Linked DNA regions of Homo sapiens. The protein of the gene in region 2 interacts with the protein of the main gene of each other region in a pairwise test. Each region holds a gene or a part of one and is shown on either strand. Other genes may lie near its edges.

What was found. Proteins that work in one complex are often made in the same cells at the same time.
Region 1: the proteins of WASHC3 (region 2) and C20orf202 interact in binary tests that used the Homo sapiens proteins (3 or more experiments, as listed by UniProt).

What each region holds. Positions count from the first base shown.
Region 1 is NC_000020.11:1,198,791-1,206,453, reverse strand, and holds the start of C20orf202 (uncharacterized protein C20orf202), read right to left. Parts: upstream 3,001-7,663; 5' UTR 2,869-3,000; coding exon 2,803-2,868; intron 1-2,802.
Region 2 is NC_000012.12:102,058,669-102,066,625, forward strand, and holds the start of WASHC3 (WASH complex subunit 3), read right to left. Parts: upstream 3,324-7,957; 5' UTR 3,295-3,323; coding exon 3,244-3,294; intron 2,679-3,243; coding exon 2,580-2,678; intron 1-2,579. UniProt on the Homo sapiens protein: Acts as a component of the WASH core complex that functions as a nucleation-promoting factor (NPF) at the surface of endosomes, where it recruits and activates the Arp2/3 complex to induce actin polymerization, playing a key role in the fission of tubules that serve as transport intermediates during endosome sorting.

The sequences.
Region 1 (7,663 bases), on a different chromosome or scaffold from region 2:
TTAAAGCAATTTGCAACAATGTAAAATGGGGCTACTCTTCCCACTAAATATTTGCTTTGAAAAATATAGTTATTTTGAATAAGTAATGTTTTATTAACATATTATGAATTTGTTATTATTTTAGAATGCATTAGTAAATATATTAAAAATGTCTCAGCTTTGGCTTCTAATTCAGTCAGTATTGTTATATATAACTCACGTAAACAAAAGCTTTTTGGTGGCCTTAATAATTTTTTGGGGCATAAAGGGTTCCTAAGACCCAAAAGTTTGAGAACTGCTGCATTAGAACTCTCCTGTCATCTTCAGCCATCTCCATTCTTTCTCCCATTTTTTCCTGAGAATTTTTTCCCATACATTTTCTCTCTTTTTCTTTCTGTTTATTTATTTATTTATTTATTTTTGAGGCGGGGTCTCACTGTGTTGCCCAGGCTGGAGTGCAGTGGTGCAATAACGGCTCACTGCAGCCTCGAGCTCCTGGGTTCAACTGATCCTCCCACCTCAGCCTCCCGAGTAGCTGGGACTCCAGGTGCACACCACCATGCCCGGCTATTTTTTGTAGAGGCAATGTCTTGCCATGTTGCCCAGGCTGGTCTCAGACTCCTGGGCTCACGCGATCCTCTCAACTCAGCTCCCAAAGTTCGCTTTCTCTTTAAAAATGTTAAAATTCTATTTTTTGACTAAGTAATTCTTAACACATGATAGAAAATTTAAAAGCTACAAAAGGACATATATTTAAAAGTCTCTCCCACCCACCTCACTTTATCCCTCAACTCAAGCGTCCTTCTCCAGAGGCAGCCACTGCAAATGCTTCTGTTTTTCCTTCCAAAGCTGGTCGGGGCAACACATGGTTAGATATACAGATTCTCAGCCTCTCTCTTTCTCTGTCTCTCTTTGCAAGAGATACTTATGAACATTATTTCCCCACTAAAAATAGTGTTTTCATTTTTGTGACAAGCTGATTACAAGTAAGAAGACCAAGTCTGCATCCTCTACTCAAGCATGAGTAACACTGCCAAGAGAATATGTAGCTAGAAAGAGAGATGTGAGGCCAGGCCCAGTGGCTCCCACCTGTAATCCCAGCACTTTGAGAGGCCGAGGTGGGCAGATTGCCTGAGGTCAGGAGTTCAAGACCAGCCTGGCCAACATGGTGAAACCCGGTCTCTACTAAAAATACAAAAAAATTAGCCAGCCGTGGTGGCATGCGCCTGTAATCCCAGCTACTAGGGAGGCCGAGGCAGGGGAATCACTTGAACCCAGGAGGCGGAGGTTGTAGTGAGCCGAGATCGTGCCACTACACTCCAGCCTGGGCGACAGAGTGAGGCTTCATCTCAAAAAAAAAAAAAAAAAGGAAAGACGTGAAGCAAAGGTGTAGTCGGCCTCCCTCAGAACACTGGGACGACTCAGGCTGCAGAGCGAGTGGTCCTGGGCCCATTTTTTCCTAATTCCTCAGAAAACATTCACTCTGTGTTTTCTCGATTTTAGGGTTTTCCTCCTGCACATATTTCTGGGTATGCGCCTACAAGACCACAGTGGGGTTCCCAGCACGGAGGTGGTGATGAGGCATCCAGGCACCCACAGTTTCAGGGAGCATAAGGAAGACAGCTGCCCAGTGCTGGATGCCTGCTGACTGTGGGAAGCTGCAGTCCCTGCTGCTGGAATTCCCTGGTCCCATGAGAAACCCTACTGGGTCAGCCCTTCCTCTGGGGTGATGACAGGGTTGGGTCCCAGCTGGCCTGTTGCCTGGCAACCCAGAAAGGTCATTTTTGGACAATCCTGTCTGTCTCTCCCCAGGATGAGAGGTGTGTATATTGAGAAACAAACCTCTTCTGAGGTTCCCTGAGCTGCCTCCTCTCTCCTGGCTGGTGTCCCCACACACTTGGGGGCACCCCTCTTTTTTCGGACTTGGAGAAAATACCATAATGAAAGGCATAAGCCTGGCTTCCTGAGCAGCAACCACAGGACCAAGTAACATAACATCGGGTCAGGAGAGTTAGTGCTCCATGGGGGAGGCCCTTGCCAATGGGAAATGAGAGACAGGAACGAGCTGGGCAGATGAATTTCCTCTCGTTCTCTCTCCCCCAATGTGCAGTTCCTCCTTCAACCCCTGCAGAGCATCTCAGCTGCTGAGACACCCACTGGGCCTCCTTAAGGCAACTTCTGAAGCCGTAGGCTGCTTGGTAATACAATGTCTGGCGTAATTGCCTGGCATAGCATTGGCCTCTGCTGCCACACCCTATGTTCCTCCCTATCACCACCCTTGGCTTGTACTTCCAAATAAAGTGCTAGTTTCTCAATCCTTGTCCAAGCCTCTGCTTTCTAGGGGACCCAGGCTAAGACATTGGGTGTACGCATGTCCATCTGGGTCAGGGTTATAATAGCCAGCACCACGGTGCCAAGTATTCATTAAGAGGATTACAAGCATCTCTTCAGTGAATCCTTACAATACCCCATATGATATTGGTACTATTGTTATTCCCATTTTGTGATAAGGAAACTGAGGCTCAAAGAGATAAATCCCCTGCTAGAGCCACACAGAGGACTCAGCACACACGGAGGACTCAGTGTCATTCTAAAACCAGTCTGGCCAGCACCACACCCAGCACCTCCCATATAGGCCACGACCTACTTATCCCTGAACCTGAGATCACAATTGTGCATTGTGTGGTAGGTCCCAGAGGGGAGACTGCAGGGTCCATACCGTAGCCTGCAGCCTCTGCCCCAGGGGGGACCCGGGAAGGAAAACCAGAGATCTTTGGAAAATATGTAGTCGGGGCATCAAGGAAAAGCAATGCAAAACCTTACCAGCTCCTTTCTCAGCCACTCCAAGGTCTGCCCAAGACTCGGGCTGGGCTCTTCTGCTATTTTCATCTCAGTGTTCTTAGGAGTGACCTTGACACTGACCTGGTTCTGGGCCCGAGGGATCTTTGACTTGTACATTCCCCCAACTCTTTCAGACTGGCAGCAGGTTCTGGCCAAATCACTGAAGATGGAGTTAATGAGAGCAGGAAGTAGCTCACATTGAAAAATGTAATCTGGCTTTTTTTTTTTTTTTAAAGGGCTTTAGTGCTCTGAACAGAACAAGGAGGAAGGGAGGGAGACCATTATGGGTCCGAGTACCTTGGAGCCTGCTGTTCCAGAAGCCAAGAATATGTGATGCCAACAGGATCACAGAGAATGCAAAGCTTTAAATGGCAACAATATGGTTATTATGAAAATAGGCACTCTTTTCTAAGGGTTTGCTTTGTGCTTTACATATAAACTATGTATATGTCTCATTTGGCATATACCTCCACGGGTGTCCCAAGTCCCTGTCCTCATTTACTTATCTATAGAGTCCAGATAAAGGAAATGCTCACTTTCCAAGTTTCCTTGTTTCTGGAATCCCCATGTGACCCATTTCCAGCAAATGAGATCAAAGCAGCAATTTGCTGTTAGGCTTCCAGAAAAACTTTTACCTTCCTAACAAAAGGGAAAATGTCACTGCTGCTTCCCTTTTACTCCTACTTTCTCCCTTTTCCTTCTGCCTTGAATGTGGATGTAATGTCTGGAGCTATGGTAACTGTCTTGCGACCATAAGACAAAGCCCAAGAAAATCACAGAGCCATTAGAAATCATTGCACCCCTGACTCGGCAACAGCATCTATATGAGAAAACAGACCCGATGTCTAATGGAACACTCTGCTACTTGCAGGCAAACACAGTCCTGACACACCATTTATTCTTCCCATTGTTATAGGAAAGGGGTCCCAACCCAGACCCCAAGGGAGGGTTCTTGGATCTCATGCAATAAAGAATTCAGGGGGAGTCCATACAGTAAAATGAAAGCAAGTTTATTAGGAAAGTAAAGGAATAAAAGAATGGCTACTCCATAGATAAAGCAGCCTTGAGGGCTGCTGGTTGCCCATTTTTATGGTTATTTTTTGATGATCTGCTAAACAAGGGGTAGATTATTCATGTCTCCCCTTTTTAGACCATATAGGGTAACTTCCTGATGTTGTCATCGCATCTGTAACCTGTCATGGCGCTGGTGGGAGTGTAGCAGTGAGGATGACCAGAGGTCACTCTTGTGGCCATCTTGGTTTTGGTGAGATTTAGCCACTTTCTTTACTGCAATTGTTTTATCAGCAAGGTCTTTACGACCTGTATCTTGTGTTGATCTCATCCTGTGACTTAGAATGCCTTAACCATCTGGGAATGCAGCCCAGTGGGTCTCATCCTCATTTTACCCAGCCCCTATTCAAGATGGAGTTACTCTGGTTCAAATGCCACTGACATCATCACACCGTGAAGCAGGTATTCAATTCTCTCTTTCGCTAAACACTTATTGAATGTCTACTGTGTGCCGAGTTCTGCTCTAGACACTGGGGTTATCAACCAAAATCAGAGAAACAAAGGCCCTGCTTTCCTGGAGCTGACATCCTAGTAGTCATTGGAAACAAACAATCAAATTAATGCTACGATGAAAATATGTAGACTCTATTCTCACATAGGTCTTTTAAAATATAAATTTATTGGGCAGGCGTGATGGCTCACGCCTGTAATACCAGCACTTTGGGAGGCCGAGGTGGGCGGATCACCTGAGGCCAGGAGTTCGAGACCAGCCTGGCTAAACATGGTGAAACCCCGTCTCTACTAAAAATACAAAAATTAGCCGGGTGTGGTTGTGGGCGCCTGTAATCCCAGCTACTCAGGAGGCTGGAGCAGGAGAATTTCTTGAACCCAGGAGGCGGAGGTTGCAGTGAACTGAGACTGCAAATGTATATATATAAATTTATTCTATTCACATGCACTAGAAACTCCAAACCAAGAATTAGCATAGTGACCCCAGATAAAGATGTGAAATGACTGGCAAAGCAAACTCAGCCGAGTTTAGGGAAACTTGCCCTCAATCTGGCTACACAAAATATCCTCAGATAGAGCTCCCCTGAAGATGAACTCATATAAGAACACACAAGGAAGCCATTCACCATAAATGAGAGTCAACAGACACCATTCACCCCCTTCCCCCAAGAACTTCAGATGAAGATAATTAAAAGTATTTTGAGGCCAGGTATGGTGGCTCACACCTGTAATCCGAACATTTTGAGAGGCCAATGCAGGAGGACTACTTGAGGCCAGGAGTTTGAGACCAGCCTGGGCAACATAGCAAGACCCCTTATCTAAACAAAATAAAATACAATAATTAGCCAGGTGTGGTGGCACGTGCCTGTAGTACCAGCTTCTCAGGAGGCTGAGTCAGAAGGATTGCTTGAGCCCAAGAGGTCGAGGCCGTAGTGAGCTTTGATTGCACCACTGCACTCCACCCTGTCTCAAAAGAAAAGTATTTTGAAAAGAAGAGGCATACAAGAAGGAATCAAAATCATACAAAAAAAGAGACACTTTTTTCTTTTTCTTTTTTTGAGAAGGAGTTTCACTCTTGTCACCCAGGCTGGAGTGCAATGGTGCAATCTCGGCTCACTGCAGCCTCTGCCTCCCAGGTTCAAGCAATTCTCCTGCCTCAGCCTCTCAAGTAGCTGGAATTATAGGCACCTACCACCACATCCAATTAATTTTTGTATTTTTAGTAGAGATGGGGTGTCACCATGTTGGCCAGGCTGATCTCAAACTCCTGACCTCAAGTGATCCACCTGCCTCAGCCTCCCAAAGTGCTGGGATTGCAGGCATGAGCCACTGTGCCCGGCCAAAAGAGACACTTTTTAACAGGCAGATTTGAAAAAGAATGCAATAGAATTTATAGAACTTAAAATTACAGTAAGTGTTTATAAGTTAAAGAGAAAAGAGTGTATATTTATTGTAGCACCAGAAGACAGAGCTAGTGAGGTAGGAGATCAGCAAGACTTGTTCTCCGAGCACTGGTTACAATCCCAGTCACAACTCCACTGATCAAAACAGGATCTGTTCAAACAGGATGCCATGAAGTAGGCAGCCAAAACCAACTAAGATCGAGATGGCAATGAAAGCAACCTCTAGTTGCCCTCATTCCTCACGGAATGTTAATTATAATTCATTAGGATGCTAAAAGACACTCCCACCGGTACCACGACAGTTTACAAATGCCATGACAATGCCTGAAACTTACCTTACATGGTTTAAAAGGGGAGGAACCCCCAGTCTGGGGAATACCCCACCTCTTTTCTTGAAAATTTGTGAATAATCTACCCTTTATTTAGCATATAATAAAAAGTAGCTATTAATATAGTCAGCCAGCAATCCACAAAGGCTACTGTGCTGATGGGGTAGCCCTGCTCTGTCTATGGAGCAGTCATTTCCTGTACTCTGTTGCTCTAATAAACTTGCTTTGCTTTCACTTTACTTTGTTGGCTCACTCTTGAATTCTTTCCTTTATGAAGCCAAGAACCTCCCCTGACTGAGCCCCAATTTTAGGGTTCACCTGCATCACTACAGCGGTAGCTGTACATCACTACCTTTGTCCTATACAGTGGGTATAGGACAAAGGGAAGCAGACTGGGATTCAGTAGGAGGAAGGTGTTGTTTAGAATTTTTCCAAGCAGTGGGTGCTCAGTCAATGGAGGGCAGAAGCATAGCCCAGATGATCAAAGAGACTGGAGTAGGGGCTCTACTGGCTTGGAGATGGGACCTGGAGTTCCTTCCAAGTATAAGACTGACGAGGCAGGAAAAGGGATATTGTAATAAGGAGCCAGGATATCTGGGTTCTAACTCCAGCTCTGCCAAACTGTCTGTGTGAACTTGGGCCTCGTCTTTTCCCTCTTAGGCATAATGAGGCTCAAAATAGTTACTAAATCGAGTTGTAAGGAATGTCACATTTCTTATATCCTGGCGTTTACAGCTTGAGAATCGTTCTGACTGCCACATGCAGACAAAGTCTTATGTGCTATTTCTCGTAGTTCAGCTGTTACTTTTCAGAACCCAAGAGAATCAGAGAAACTCCTTTCTGCCACATTTATACCCCTTCTGAACACAAGGGGCCAGAGATGATTCCTTCAAACAGGCCACCAGGCTTTGTCACATGCCCTGTAATCATGGGACAACTGCCTGGAGCCGAGATGAGTGCCCCAGCCCAAAGCAGCCATCTACAGACTGGACAGGAGAGTGATCATTGGCTCATGGGTGACTGGTTTTTGAGCAGCTGCATTTTGGGTGGTGACCAGAGGATCCAATCAGATCTTCCCTCAGACATGTTGAATTTGCCACAGATTGGGAGGTTGGATTACCACTAGAACACTGTGTACCAAATGTCTCTAAAACTCCATACTTTCAAACAACAATCATTTATTATTGCTCATGTTTGCAGATCTGCAGCTCTGAGTCTGCTCCACAGATCTCCTGTCCTTCTCCTGGAATCACAGGGCTGCTGGGGCACATTCTCTTGGCAAAGGAGAAGAGAGCAAGTGGAACCATGGGAAGCCTCTTGAGGCTTAGCTCAGAACTGTCACACTGTTGCTTTTGCCATGTGCCATTGGGCAAAGTTAGTCACATGGCCAAGCCCAAAGCTAAGGGGCAAGGATGTATGCTCCGCTACAAAGAGATCCTGGCAAGTGTGTGGACTTATGGAGGGATGATGAAGTGAGACTCACAATTCTGTGCCGGAAGACAGCACTGCGTGGAAGTGGGGCCACAGGCCTGGAGGTGCCCAGAGGGAAGGTGGCAAGTGGAGACCATGAGGTGGCAAGAGCAGGAGGCC
Region 2 (7,957 bases):
AACTACTATATGATCCAGCAATCCCACTTCTGGGTATATATCCAAAGGATGTAAAATTAGTACATTCAAGAGACATCTGTACTTGAAAGTTCACTGCAACATTATTCACAATAGCCAAGATACGGAATCAAAAGTGTCCATCAATGGATGAATGGATTAAAAAAAGTGGTATATATACACAATGGAATACTATTTAGCCTTAAAAAAGAATGAAATCCTGTCATTTGTGACAACATAAATGAACTGGAAGACATTGTGTTAAATGAAATAAGCCAGTCAAACAGAGACAGATACTGAATGATCTCACTTATATATGGAGGATAAAAAAGTACAACTCATAGAAATATTGAGTAGAATGGTGGTTAGCAGGGGCTTGGGGTTAAGAGGATTGGGGAGATGCGGTTAAAGGATACAAAATTTCAGTTAGGCAGGAGGAATAAGTTCAAGAGATCTCCTACATGTCATGGTGACTGCTGTTAATAACAATATATTGTATTGAAAATTGCTAAGAGAGGCGATTTTAAGTGTGCTCACCACAAAAAAAAGTAAGTACGTGAGGCATTGCTTATGTTAAATAGCTTGGTTTGGCCATTCCACAATGTATTCATATATCAAAACATCATGTTGTACATCATAAAAATACAATTTTTACCTGTCAATTTAAATAAAGAAATAAGATTTTTGAAAAAGGACAAAAGGCAATAGACTACCTTTAAACTTCATGAGGTTTTGATGAACAAACTTTTCTCTAGAGTTCAAAGAAGTACTAGAATACAGATACAGCCAGAACAGCTGCAGAGAAGTTGAGACAGGAACAGGAGGAGGTTAAAGAGTGACTCATGAGGCTTTGATCATAATCTATCAATAAATGAGATGACTATTGTTTTCTTTGATCTAGTTGTCAGTAAACAGCTCTCATTCAAGAACCATTAGGCACTACAAAGGTGAAGGGCTATCCCTGTTTCAGGACAGCTCAAACAAGTTGCTTTCATAGGTGTGTTTACTTGTTGCTTTGTTCTTTATTTTTCAGCTTGATGATAAGGGCTATGGGGATAAGAGTATTTGCTTCTTTCTGCTAGTAATCCTGGGACAGTCCCTTTCCAGATACTTCTCCATCTTGCCCTGGTATAAAAATCGAAGGGTGAAAACCTTGGCTTACTGGTTTTTATTCAGTCAATTTTATATCCTAAATTATTTAGAGAGATAGTAGGAACGAAATAAAACTGACTGGAAGCAAGCACCTAGTTTCTGGCCATTAACATATAAAACTAAATTGAATTAAGCCCCTTACTCTACCAATTACTATATTTTACTTTGTCTTAGAAGGCAGAAGAAATGTTGATAATTAGACAAAACAATAACTGGAATTTCATACAAGTAAAAAATAGTTTTCCCATCTCCATGCAATTTTTATTAATAGTAGTAACACACTTAACAAAAACTCTAATTGCTAAGGCTATACCTTACATAAGACAGAATGTTCAACAGACTTACTTGTGAATATCTAAGTCCCATAATTTACTTTGCTCTTTCCTTAAATGCAATTTCAACCCATGGTTCCCATTGTCTTCCCCATCCTCTTTTGGCTTTTTAAAAGACAGGGATTCCCTGGATCCTGGATCTAGTACCTAATCCTCTTTTTTAAAACAAAAACAAAAACAAAACACTGAGTTTCTCTGTTGTCCAGTCTTGTCTCAAATTCCCGGGCGCAAGTGATCCTCCTGCCTCTGCCTCCCGAGTAGCTGGGATTACAGGTGCGCACTGCTGTGCCAGTTCTGGTACCTAATCCCTAGTTGGGTACTTAATCCTTACATCACAAGTCATTTGCAGAAAATATTTTCATTTCTATAATCATATTTGATGCCAAAGTTATGTTTCTAGGCTATCTCCTCTAGCCATCTTTTAGATCCAGAATGTAAAATAAATTTAAACAATGTGGTTTTGGGGTACGGGAACGAATGACAAATTGCAAAATAAAAACTGTTTTCAACTGTGAAATTTTAGAAGCCGGGCGCGGTGGCTCACGCCTGTAATCCCAGCACTTTGGGAGGCCGAGGCTAGTGGATCGCCCAAGGTCAGGAATTCGAGACCAGCTTGATCAACATGTTGGAACCCCGTTTCTACTAAATATAAAAAATTAGCCAGGCATGGTGGCGCATGCCTGTAATCCCAGCTACTCAGGAGGCTGAGGCAGGAGAATCGCTTGAACCCGGGAGGTGGAGGTTGCAGTGAGCCGAGATCGCGCCACTGCACTGTAGCTTGGGTGACAGAGTGAGACCCTGTCTCACAAAAAAAAAAAAAAAAAAAAAAAAAATTAGATTTCCTATTGTTCCCTTTAATCGCAATAAGCCTGACTGACCTATCTCACAGGGACCTCTAGAACACTAACTCAGTAGAGGAGGGGTGCAGGATTGATTTTAACAGAGTAAAAGAGAACCTAAGATGTGTTAACACAATTGGGTGATGAGAGGTCACGGTACATGAATAAAGACTGTAATTCTTGTTTTACTCCATTTGTCAGTCTCAGCAGTGAAAGGTGATTTCCAGGCGACTCTATAAACCAGTATCACCGGACCTACCTCCTCACAAACTGTAGAAAAGCGGTTGAGGAACTGTACAGTGTGCACCACAAATTGGTTTAGAAAAGCCACCGTTCTTTTCTGTTGAATAGCTGGCACCTGTGTTACGTAAAAACAAACATGGTTCATACAGGAGGAACGTACACAGTGCAAATCTTTTCATATTTGGACATAATCACGAGGCACTTTGCTGTGTGATATGAATTTCTTGAAGGACTGGGAATAGTCATTAACTTGTTTCCTAAGCTGTGGGTGGGGTGTCCGAAGATGACAGAGGTGCACAAAAGTTTGAGAACAGGCTCTAGACTCACTGGTACGAATTTTGGCAGGCAAAAAGCACCACACATAAACACACACAAAATCTTGGGGGCTGAATAAGAGGTAGGGCTAGCTATCGCAACCGGCGTGTGTCGCCGGCGGCAGAGAGACAAGCGAGATGGGAAGCGACAGTTGGGAGATGCACACCGTCTCCTTAATCAGCTCAGGAGGGACCCCATTTCAAGGTGGACTGTGGGGCTCTCCCTCCTGAGGCCCCACAGGCCTGTCACAAGGGCCCGAGGCCGTGACAGGGTGGGGACTCGGAAGGTGGGTGTCTCCCCGGAAAGCTGCGTCTTCCCCATCCTCCTCCCGGCTCGTCGGGAGTCTAGCACCGTCTTTTACAAACCTTGGTCAGGTCTATGCCTGACCCCATGAGAGGAAGCCCGTCCTCATCCATCTCCTCAGCGGGCGGTGGACCCCGAGTTCACCCACAAACCCCTCCCAGATGGGGCCCGCCCAACCCGGTAATCACGTCTCAACTTTCCCCCCAAGTGCCCGCCTCCGGGGCCCTTCCCGCCGGAAGAAAGCTTCTCCGCTCACTAATCACTCGGCGGCTTCCGGAGAGCCCGCCTCCTCGCTCGGCATTCTGGGATTGGTAGTTTTAGTCCAGATTGTGACGTCAATTTCGGGGTGGCGCGCGGTGGTGCAAGGATGCAGTTAGAGCACTGAAATCTTAGAAAGGAGGCAACAAAACAAAACAAAAAAACAAAGCCAGAAGTTGCGTCCTTTTGAGGTTATCCCTACTTAGTCCTGTCTGTTATATAATAACTCCGTCATTCCTTGAGCAACAATTTTTTTTTTGTTGTTGTTAATCCTAAGTGCCATATACTCTGCTAGGCTTTTACTGGGAAAACAAAGATTGAGTTTGATTGCTGCACGGGAGAGGTTTATGCCCTGAAGAATGAGAAATAAGACCTACTTCCAAAGCGTGTGTGTGTGTATACACACAAGTTCTCGCTATTTCCCCAGGCTGGTCTCGAACTCCTGGCCTCAAGCGATTCTCCTGCCTCAGCCTCACACGATTCTCCTGCCTCAGCCTCACAGAGTGCTGGGATTACAGGCGTGAGCCAACGCGCCTGGTCTTCCAAAGGTTTTTAAAACATGAAATAAAATGTCAACTACTAGATGTGAGGCACAAACCTACGGAAGTGACTGCCACTTACAGGGAGCATCAAAAAGATGAAGACCAAGACTGCAGTGGGCAGTTTTGTTTTAAAGATGGGGGGTCTCGCTTTGTTACCCAGTCTGGCGTGCAGTGAGGATCATAGCTCACCTTAGTCTCAAACCCTTTGGCTCAAATGATCCTCATGCCTTGGCCTCCCTAAGTGCTGGGATTATAGGTGTGAGCCACTGGCACCTGGCCTGTTGGTTTGGTTGAAGCAAATAATCCCATAAATGGAGAATGGTAGGAAATGAGGTAAGAGTGTTACTGGTGGAGGGTGTCCAGGTTCTTTTGAACAAAGAATTGGACAAAACGCACAAATCAAGGAGAGAATGAACCAACAAAAGCAAAGATTCATTGAAAACCAAAGTACGCTCCACAGTGTACTGGATACAGAATCTTCTTAGGTCCAAATACCCACTAGAGATTTCCCATTGGACACTGGTGTTCTCCTCATGCAAATGAAGTGGTGGCCCACAATCAGTCTGATTGGTTATGGAAAGCAACCAATCAGAGGCTGAAGTAAAATGACAAAGGTCATACTCCTATACAAACATCTGATTGGTTGTGGAAAGCAACCAATCATTGGCTAAAGTGATGTTACTTAGTTGCACTTCTATGCAAAGGAAGATTTGGCCCGCAATCAGTCTGATTGGTTGAGGTACTTTCAATTTCCATCTGCCTGTCAGAAAAGGTGGGGATTTGCAAAGGGAGTAGCCGCTGGTCCTTTTGTTACTTAGGTGTGGAAATTTGGGGTTTACCTTTTGATTTAGTTCTAGGAAGTCAGCGTGAATCGGCGTTAGGTTCCCTGCCTCCAGACCCTATTCTGCCTCAGGAGACGTAGCCAGAAAATTTTCGTTTAAGGGCCTTTTATGCCAGATTTGATACTATAGTCCATGTTTATCTAATGTGATTCATAGGCCATCTGTAGCAATTATTTGGGTGTGGGTGGTGTTTCTTAAAGTTGCACGTTGCCCAGCTTAACCTTAGCGTGATCACCTTCTCCTGATTGAACTTTCTTAATTTTTCTTTCAGGAAGGCAGATCTTCTCTGGTTTTCTTTGTATCACTATGGTCATTTCCTTTCAGTTTCTTTTGCTGGTTGCTTCTTATGTCCCCAATCTCTAGAGTTTCTCACATTTATATATCTAACCCAGACCTTACATTGGAAGCCAGTATAGCTGAAGCAGAGTGAGCAAGGTGGGGAACTGAAGGACATGATGGCTAAAAGTTATGTGGAGACCTGATCATGCAGAGCTTTATGGGACATCATAAGGACTTTGGCTTTCACTCTGGGTATGATGGGAAGTCATGGAAAGATCTAGAGCAGAGAAATGATGGGAGCTACAGAAGAGCTTTTAAGCAGGGGGTGGCATGATCAGAATTGCATTTCGGGACATTCTGTTTGGTACAAGGTAATGAATGTGACTTGAGGGTAGGTGGCTGAACCTGGAAATGTTGCATAGGTCTAACAGTCACTCTTTACTCCATCCTCCTTTACATCTAGTCATTCATCAAATCTTACCTCTTCTACTTCCTAAGTAGTTCTTGAATCAGTCTGTAACTCTCCATCCTTACTGCCATATCTCAAGTTCTGTACAACACACTTTTGTGCCTGGGTTACTGCAATAGCCTCTTCCTGCCTCCATTTTGTGTCTCTCCAAGCTACTCCACACATTGTAGCCATAGTGATTTTTAAAAAGACAAATCTGATTATATTACTCAGGATATAATTTTGTTCCCCATCTCCCTCAGATACTATGCTCACAGGTCCTCTCTGTGGCTCTTGGCCACTTCTTTAACCTTACCTCTCACTGTTATAACTTTCTCCTTAGCCCCAAATAACTTCTTTCAATTCCTGGAATTGCTTGCTGTGTGTGGGTCTTTCAAGATGTTGTCTTCCCTCTGCCTGGAACAATCTCCCCTGCTTCCCAACAACCCCTGCCTGGCTAACTCCTACTCATTCTTCACATATCTTCTCTCCTTTATCCTTGGTTTTCAAGTTTGAATATAATGTGCGTGGGGTATGGGTATGGTTTTCTTTGTATTTATCCTGCTTGTAGTTTGCTGAGCTGCTCAGATCTGTGGGTTGGTGTTCTAAATCAAATTTGGAAGAAAGATTTTTGGCCATTAATTCTTCAAAAAATGTTTTTGTCATTTTTCTCTTTTTCTGGGACTTCAAAAATACTTGTATGTTAGACTGCTTGATTTTGCCCATAGATCACGGTGCTCTGCTCATTTCCCCCCAATCATTTTCTTTTCTCCCTGTGTTTCAGTGTGGATAATTCTTACAAACCTATCTTCAAGTATTTTCTAGTTTCCAATTTAACTATTTTCTAGTTTCCAATTTAGTTCCAGAACTCATCTAATAAGTTGATTTCAGATGTATTTTTTTCTAAAAATCTGTTTTTTAGAGTTTGTTTTTCTCTTGAAATTCCCTTCATTCATCTTTTCCTCTATATTAAAAAAACCAAATTTATAAGTTTTTAAAAAGTCCTTATCTAATAATGCCAATTTCTGGTTCATCTATGTGCCTGGTTCTATTGACAACTTTTTCCTAATTATGGGTTATGTTTCCTGCTTTTTAGCATGTCTTATAATTTTTAATTTTATTATGGACATTGTGAAAAAAAGAACAAAGTTCAGTGAGAAATGGAACATTCAGATTCATTCACAATTTGAATTGAGCTGATGCTGGGCTGCAGCTTTAGATTAAGTTTACCTGCAGTTAATTCAATTCAACCTCCTGCAAAGGACTGAGCTCTTGGATCTTGTCTGTGTTAGAGAGGGATGGGCCATAGTTTCAGATCATTTGGTTCACCTTCGGATTCAGCTTCAGCAGGGCTCAGGAATCCAAGCACCATAAGAATGTGCAAGATTTAGTGAATTCTACTTACCGAAAACATTTCCTCCATTACTGCTTTCTTAGCAATCTTAGGGGTAGGGTGTAGGCCCAAGTGATTTATTTTCGTGATTGAGGTCCTTCCAGACCCAAGTCTGTCTCACCAGCTTGTAGCAAAGTCTTAGCCACTTTCTCCTTAACTCTGCAAAGTCTCCTAGAGTGTTGCAGGCTTGTTCTTCCATCTACTTGTATCCAGACCACGCCCTTCTCCCTGGGCATGGCAATGCCACAGCTCTCTGCTCAACTATGTTCCTCCAAACATAGGCATGACTATAGAATTTATTTCATTAAGGTCTTACATACATGGCTTTTCAACAGCCCCATAAAAAGTATGATTTTTATCTGGTTATTTCTTATTACCACTAAATAAAAGGCTTTCATGCATCTTTCTGTATTCGAACTAGTAGCAGAAGTCTTAACATTCCATCCTTAGAGCTTTCCCAAAGCCACACAGATTAGATTAACTGTTCTTACATGCTTCCATAGCATTCTCTGCTTAACTCTATCTTAGCACATATAATTGCCTGTTTGCTTGAAAGCCTACTATATTACCAATTTAGGGCAGAGTCTCTGTTAGTTCACCATTAAGGTCCTAGCCCAATGTTTGTCCTATAGTAAACACTAAGTATCTTCTGAGTGACATTTGGGCTTAATGAATCTTGTACTTCCACATCTTACTTGATATTTCATTAACCTTTGATTTAGGTGGGACTCATAACTCTGGGTACTCAATCAGTCTCCCTGAGCAGAATTCCCCACTGGTCAGCCTAGCCTTCTTCTCTAGAGCCAAGACAGGCTCCCAGCCAGGAGAAAAATTAAGACAAACCAACACAGCAACTTCATGGTTATAGTTATGTATAAGTAGCAGGCATTTATATATGTGTATGTGTGTATATACATGTATATGATATGGTTCTATACACAGTTATGGGCCACAAACCATTTCATCAGTGATGGACTACATATTAGAGGATGGACCTATTATAGTAAAAGGTAT